2 linked regions of the Homo sapiens genome follow. The protein of the gene in region 1 interacts with the protein of each later gene in a pairwise test. Each region holds a gene or a part of one and is shown in the gene's direction. Other genes may lie near its edges. The genes, in order: GPR50 and MT1A.

The links.
Region 2: the proteins of GPR50 (region 1) and MT1A interact in binary tests that used the Homo sapiens proteins (3 or more experiments, as listed by UniProt).

What each region holds. Positions count from the first base shown.
Region 1 is NC_000023.11:151,174,415-151,178,525, forward strand, and holds the start of GPR50 (melatonin-related receptor), read left to right. Parts: upstream 1-2,169; 5' UTR 2,170-2,307; coding exon 2,308-2,494; intron 2,495-2,962; exon of another isoform or gene 2,963-3,422; intron 3,423-4,111. UniProt on the Homo sapiens protein: G protein-coupled receptor that plays a role in numerous physiological processes including regulation of energy metabolism, neurite outgrowth or cell migration.
Region 2 is NC_000016.10:56,636,779-56,640,378, forward strand, and holds MT1A (metallothionein-1A), read left to right. Parts: upstream 1-1,887; 5' UTR 1,888-1,960; coding exon 1,961-1,988; intron 1,989-2,485; coding exon 2,486-2,551; intron 2,552-3,080; coding exon 3,081-3,172; 3' UTR 3,173-3,309; downstream 3,310-3,600. UniProt on the Homo sapiens protein: Metallothioneins have a high content of cysteine residues that bind various heavy metals; these proteins are transcriptionally regulated by both heavy metals and glucocorticoids.

The sequences.
Region 1 (4,111 bases):
TCTAGCCACCTCATCTCAGAAGTGCAGTACACTGGAGTGTAGCAATGCCTGCAAGGTTTGCAAGCTCTCCTTACAGGTTTGTTTGGGGCAGGGGGAGTCTAGTGTCTTAAGTCACTAGAAGGTGTGTTTCGTTTTTTCCTTCAAATGTATTTTGTTTACTTATTTGAATTCAAAATCGCCCCTTCCCACAAGTGAAGGGATCCAAACTCTCGGGGAACCAGCAAGAACAGCCTGATGTGCATCCTACAAAATACTCCACTGCGCGGACGGGCTTTTGACTGACAGCCTCTTTACAGGGCGCACAGCTGTGTGGGGAGGACAGCGGAGCCCCTTCACTGTCTGCACTTACGGAAAAAAATGCGAGCGCGCGCGGCCGGGAGTTCCAGCCAGCGAGGGGCAGTGAGATAATGAATGTGAAAAGCCTCCAGGCGGGAGATTGTAATTCGCGCCGGATTCAGTTCACAGACGCGAAAGCCGCAGGATTGGGGTGGGGGCTTCATTTTCAAACAAGGAGACACATTTCCAGTTTAGGCTTTATAGCTAGAGACAGTGTGTGCAATCTTGGTTTTCAACAGTGTCTGTTTTTTTCGTTAAAGGTATCTGAATGTTGAAGTTCGTCGCGTAACAGGCCCCTACTACCTACCCCGCCTTGTCCGTCCCCCCACCCACCCCGGGGCAAGAGGGCTGCTGTGTCCAGACGATGGCGCTCCCGGCCAGTGCAACCCCTCTCCCCTACTGTGGCAAGAAGACTAGTCTGGAACAAGTTTCAAGGTGTTTACTGAGATTTTGAAAGGCTTCTCGACAGGAGCCGTAACTTTTAGTAGCCGGCAGAAATCCATTCCCGTGACCAAGGTTATTGAGGGAACGAGTGTCCGAATCACGCCCCTTTAGTTTTGCCCGAATATTCGAATTTTCCGTGGTCCCCGCGGAGCGAGATCCTGGGCGCACCGCAGGGGAACTGTGACGCACGGGGACAGAGATCCGCGGTGTGGAGGGCGAGGGGGGAGGCCTGAGAGGGATGGGGTCGAAACGAGAACCCCAGAAGGGCATGGGAAAGGAGAAAGACCGAGAGGAATCCTGACTGAGGCAGGGATCGCCGGTCAGCCAGAGGCTTCTTGGTTTAGCCGCGTGACACCTCCGCACCTTTCCCGCGGCTGCGGCGCAGCTCCTTCAGCCTTCCTGACTGCCCCGTGCCGCTCAGTAGAGAATGCCGAGCATCCCGAGAGGGAGAGGCGTCAGAGCCTCTCGTCCTGAGTTTCCTTGAGAAGCGGGGACCCAAGAGAAGAGCTTTATTGCCTGTTTTACTTTTTCCCAAAGCGTCCCTTGGCTTCCGCCGCCTGGCTGCCGGCAGCTGGAAAGGAGACGAGCTCCCGCTCCCGTTCGCCCCCAAACTGAGGACCGAGTGGCCACCAATGCCTTCCCTAGGTCCCAGGGTGCAGACCCGCTCCCCACTTCCAGAGTCGGGCGCAGGGTACATCTCTTTATGGAGAGTGCAAGACCTGGACCGGACTGAGCGGCTACTCGCAGCTGCCGCTAAGGGAGCCAAGAGGCTCCTGGCGAGAAAGGGAGCGGGGTTAAGTTCCCTAGGGATTAGGGACCCAGATTGGGGGTGGGAGCTCCCAGCAGTAGTCCCCTGTTCCCCGCGGGACACAGAAGGCTCTAGACAGGCAAGGGCATGGGGCGTGGGATGGACCTCACAAGGATACTTGCAGAGGCAAGCATCTAGCGTTCAAGGGGCCACCGGCTATCCCCTATACCCTGCTGGGGGCTGTGGACTGGCTTGGTCTAGCACTGGATCCTATGAAAGACTCTGTGCTCCGGCTCTGCAATCTACATCTCTTTGCCAGGTGTTTGCACTGGAGGAGAGAGGGAGAAGAACTTGCTAGAAACGAATGCACAGGGGCTGGTGGAGGGGGTGTGGGGTGGACTCCGAGCTAGTCATGATGCTTGCAAGGTACCTGGGAGATTGAGAGGCAGGGCAGGCTGGCTAGAGAGGAAGTACATACAAGGCAGTCGGAAGCAAGATGACACCTCAATGTGGATTTGTCCAATAAGAGGGGGTAGCCAAGGGGGGGGTATTCAGGGAGGTCTGATTGGTCGGGGGGAGGGATTTGGGGTGGGGCTAGCCGCCTCTTGAGGCTTTAAAAGCTCATCGGAGAGGGGCGGGATGCTGTCATTTGCTCTCTGACTCTCAGAGAGGGAGGCACGCTTTCCTGGAGCTCCTGGTGACAGAACAGGTGTTTGCTGTCTGGACCTGGCTGCTGATCCTGAGCCTGCTGGGAGATCTTAACGATCCCCAGGAGCAACATGGGGCCCACCCTAGCGGTTCCCACCCCCTATGGCTGTATTGGCTGTAAGCTACCCCAGCCAGAATACCCACCGGCTCTAATCATCTTTATGTTCTGCGCGATGGTTATCACCATCGTTGTAGACCTAATCGGCAACTCCATGGTCATTTTGGCTGTGACGAAGAACAAGAAGCTCCGGAATTCTGGTAAGCCACCCCTTCTTCTCCCTACCCAGTGTGCAGAGACTTGCAACCCCTAGGGCGTTAGTTTTTGAGCTCCCCGAATAGAGAATCTATGGACAGTGCCCTCATATTGAACATCCCTGCTCCCAAATTCCCCGCAAGCCTGGGGGTGGTAGTATTCTGTCCCGGCCCTCTAAACGTGGAGGTTCTCAAGGCCGAGAGAGCACAGAGAATTAGCTTTGGGCATCCAAGTACAAAGCGTTCCCGTGGTGCGCGGCAGCCCGAGGATCCCTGTCCCGTCGGGGCCTGATGCGGAGGGAGCCGGCACCCGAGCGGGAGAGTCAGGCGATTCGCCCGGGGACAGCAAGCCGAGCCGGACGCCGCAAGGGCGGCCGCGCTGAGGCAGCGCGGACCGAACTGACGCGGAGGGAGCAGCGGGGCTGCGACCTGCTCTGTGAAAGTTAAGTTCGCGGCGGCCGCGGCGGCCCTTACCAGAGCGCAACGCAGTGGCCTCTCCCTAGCCGGGCCAAGAGCCCGCTCGCCGCGGCCCTGGGGCTCCAGGACGGCTCCCGGGCAGATCCCGGGCGGCGGAGCACAGACCCCCGCGCCCGAGAATCGAGCAGGGAGGTCTGAGCCCGCCGGAGCCGAGCTCCGTCCGCCCGTCCCAGGGCGAACGGCAGAGAGAGGCAAGCGGCGGGTCGGGCACAGCAGGCGGTGGCAGCGACGGCGGCGGCAGCGGAGATCCCAAGGTCCGTAAGCGGGGAACTGGGGGGTCGCAGGGCGGGCCGGCCAAGAGGCTTGGGAGCTGGGCGTTGCTGGGGGTGGAGGGATAGAAGGCAGCAAAACCGAGTAGGGATTGGCGGGAGGGCGACGGGAGAGCTCAGAGGCGGCGATGGGGGACTCAGAGAGGCTGCAAAGGGCTGGGGTCTGGGAGCCGCAGGCGGGACTTCCCCCGCTGCTAGCCACTGCCGAGCGGGAGGAGGCCGGGGGCCGGGGGCCGGCGGCGAGCAGGGCAGGAGGGAAGCGTGGGAGGATGCCGGGCGCTGCGACCTGTGCTGGGGGTGGGGGCGGCAGACACTGCAGAGCAGCTAGTCCGGCTTACAGGTTGGGCGGGAGAGGGCTCTGGAAGGGAGGGGAAGGGGCAAAGGCGCCCAAACTCCGAGTTCAGGCCGGGGGAGGGAGGGGCGGCGCCTGGAATTTCCACCGCCAGATTCTCGATCGGCTGGGGCTAGGAGTGGGGACCGAAGGGGGTCTGAGAGGGTGGGGAGACCAGCTGGATTCTCCCGGGCAGGGCGTGGGGGAGAGGTGGCGGCCGGGGTCTGGGGGATTACTTTGCTTGGGCAAGGAGTCACGAACACTGAACAAGTTTAAAAACGCACTGACTGGCACACAGTCATTAAAAGTTTTCTTACAAAGTCTGGTGGGTGTCTCCGATTTCTCCTTCGTCTCCTGGAATCGTGGGGCCATACACTAGGTCTTCACCTTCACCCCCGCGGTGCGGTCCCGAGGTGCAAACCCACGGAATCCTGGGGGCGACCTGCGAAGCCCATTTTATTCCCTTTAGATTTCTTTTCTTTCTTTTTCTCCTTCTCCTTCCTTCCTTCTATAATTCAAATAAAGGCTTTTATGGTTGTTGTGGTT
Region 2 (3,600 bases), on another chromosome or scaffold:
CACGCTTGCTATTAGGGCAGGGAGGTGCCTGGTGAAGTCTGCTGCCACCTCTCACTCTCCCCTTCTTCCCCAGGCTGCTGCTTCTGCTGCCCCATGGGCTGAGCCAAGTGTGCCCACGGCTGCATCTGCAAAGGGACGTCGGAGAAGTGCAGCTGCTGTGCCTGATGTGGGAACAGCTCTTCTCCCAGATGTTAATAGAACAACCTGCACAACCTGGATTTTTTTTTTATACAATACTGAGCCATTTGCTGCATTTCTTTTTATATTAAATATGTGAGTGACAATAAAACAATTTTGACTTGAATCTTACTCTGTTCTTCTTTGTGTGCCTTGGAAAAAATGGACTGGGGTGGAGGTTAAACCGCAAGCTTAGAGACCAGGCTCTGGATGGAAATGTGAGTCACTAATAATGTGAACACCTTCAGGCCAGTCAGGTTACCTCACTGAGTTCACACTTCTGTGAAATGGTACTGCACTTTGCCACACCATATGGGTGGGGACCATACATGATCGCTTCCAGTCTCATGCCAAACGTGGCACAGAAACTTCATTCCTTATTTTTATTTTCTGATTTTCCTCCACAACTTGAGATCCACATTGGATTTTAGGCTTAAAAGTGGCTATAGTGCTGGAACCCAACTTCTTAGTTTCTTGAATCCTACATGTGTGCTATGATTTAGATATTTTGTCACTGCCAAATCTCATGTTGAAATGTGTCCTCCACTATTGCAGGTGGGGCCTAGAGGGAGCTTTTGGGGTCATGAGGACACATCCCTAAAGAATGACTTGGTGCCATCCCATGGTAAAGAGTGTGTTCATCCTCTGGTAGGTCACTCCAGTGGTGGCTGTGAATGAAAGTGATTAGAAAGGGACTGGTATAGACTCAATGTTATGCCTTAGTCAGGTGTACTTTAGGGAAATAACTGGATGTCTTGCTTTTTAATTTTATTTTTTTAGAGAAGTTGACTTGCTATGTGGACTAGGCAGGACTGGAAGTCCTGGGCTTAAGTGATGCTCCCGCCTCAGCCTCCTAAGTAGCTTGGACTACAGCTTCCCGCCACCTCCCCCATCTTGCTTTTTAGTTTAAAGCAGGGTCAGCACATCACATGAAGTCATCTCCTTTTTGGGGATATCCCACATGTCCAGAACTGCCAGACGGTAGTGGGGTGGCCGGCTAGGCTGTGGGGAGCACGGAGATTTATTTGCAAAGGAGGACCTGGACAAATGTGCCCCCACATCCTCTCAGGCGAGGAGAATGGACGAGAGTGAGAGGCCGACCCGTGTTCCCGTGTTACTGTGTACGGAGTAGTGGGTCCGAGGGACCTAGGTGTGGACAGGGACAGGCAAGGCGACAGCGAGGAGAAACGAAAATCACATCGGTGGCGGTTGCTCTGCACACAACTCGCTCGCTACCGCACGCTCCACGCTCTGCACTACGCCGATCCGGGGACAGGAGCAGGAGGCTGTGGCTGCACTCAGACTTCGGGACAGGCCGAGCTGAAAACCGTGAGAGGGGTGGGGTGGAGGCGACCGAAACGCCAAGGCTGGGTTCCCGGAACGCGCGGGGACTAGGGTGGAAGGCAACTTCGGGGAAACTGGGAAAGGCGACCGGGACCTCGGGGACGCCCCGTACCCCGGGCGTAAACTCACTCCCGCGTTAGCGGCCCCAAAGCGGGGAGGGGGTGGTCCCGTGGTCCGCACCCAGGGGAGCTCAGTGGACTGTGCGCCTTGCCTTTCTGCTGCGCAAAGCCCAGTCCAGGTCATCACCTCGGGCGGGGCGGACTCGGCTGGGCGGACTCAGCGGGGCGGGCGCAGGCGCAGGGCGGGTCCTTTGCGTCCGGCCCTCTTTCCCCTGACCATAAAAGCAGCCGCTGGCTGCTGGGCCCTACCAAGCCTTCCACGTGCGCCTTATAGCCTCTCAACTTCTTGCTTGGGATCTCCAACCTCACCGCGGCTCGAAATGGACCCCAACTGCTCCTGCGCCACTGGTAAGGGATGCTAGGTTTCTGGTCCTTAGGATACCTATTTCCCCGCCACAGGATAGATGTCCCTAGGAGTAGAGGTGTTTTTTGAGTTCTAGCTAAGTGGAGTCATTTATTTCATTGATCTAGTGCTTTTCCACTCAGCGCCTTCATCATCCCTAGAACATTCCTATTCTAATGCCTCCCATTTCAGAGGCGAGAGGACTCAGGCTCATAATTCTCCTGCTCCATGTCACCCAGGTAGTCGGGGACTGCTAGGCTGAGCCCCAGTACTCTGCGCAGTTCCTGGGGTGGATGGGAGACAGGAGTTATTGGTTTTTCGGGATTAAGGACATAAAGCCCATCCTAGCCTCTACAGATAGAAGTAAGATTAGGCTTCATGGTGCCCTGAGTTGGACAGGAGCTATCTATCAGGCCTGGCAATGCACTCAGCTGGCAGCATTTGTTGACCAACTGCTGTTATCTTCTGTATAAAATTCACTGCCTTTTTCTCTTCCTTGCAGGTGGCTCCTGCACCTGCACTGGCTCCTGCAAATGCAAAGAGTGCAAATGCACCTCCTGCAAGAAGAGTGAGTGTGGGGCCATCTCCAGGAATCTGGGGCTGAGCCAAGTCAGAGGCAGGAAACCAGAGCTGGGCATGGAGGAGTAGGCCAATGATCCATTTCCCACATCCCCTTCCCCAGCAACTGATTCAGGATCAGAGCCAGATCTTTAGACGTGATGGATTCCCAAGTTTCGTTCTTAAAATAGACAAACTGAGGCCAAGAGTGCACCAGCCTGCCAAGCACAGACATGACACCTAAGGACTTTCCTCCCCTAAGTGTGTGGTTCTGGGGAGCCAGCCTTCCTTTGTCCTTCATAACCCCAGTCACTGCCTTTCCAGCCTTCTGCCAGGTCTGGGGCTCAGATGGAGATAAGCTTTTCACAGAAGACCCTCACTCGAAAGATCCACCACTTATCTCCCATCTCCGACAGTGCATGCCATCCTGAACTAAGTGTCCTCTGGGGCTGGGGACAGAGCTTGGGCCAGGCTTCTCTGGGGGCAGGGAAGTCCCCGGTCAAGTCTGGTCTGACCTCTCACTCTCCCTTCTTCCCCAGGCTGCTGCTCCTGCTGCCCCATGAGCTGTGCCAAGTGTGCCCAGGGCTGCATCTGCAAAGGGGCATCAGAGAAGTGCAGCTGCTGTGCCTGATGTCCGGACAGCCCTGCTCGAAGATATAGAAAGAGTGACCTGCACAAACTTGGAATTTTTTTTCCATACAACCCTGACCCATTTACTGTATTTTTTTTAATGAAATATGTGAATGATAATAAAAGTTGCTGACTTAATGCTGGCTCTGGTTTTCTTTGTGTGCCTTGGAAATAAGGGACCCCATACCCAACAGAGCTGGGATGGTGGATTGCATTGAGAGTCCAGAGACCTGGGTGCTGGGACCTTGTCCTATTATCTTACACACTGAGTGCCTTAAGGCAAATCAGGCACCTGCCTCAGGTCAGTTTCTTAAATAAAAATGTAAGAGCGTGATGACAGATGATATAATGCCACAGGAATCTGTCACAGACTTAAGCTTTGGTAAGATAAAATCTATTAGTATGACAAAAAAAAAACACCAAATCCAT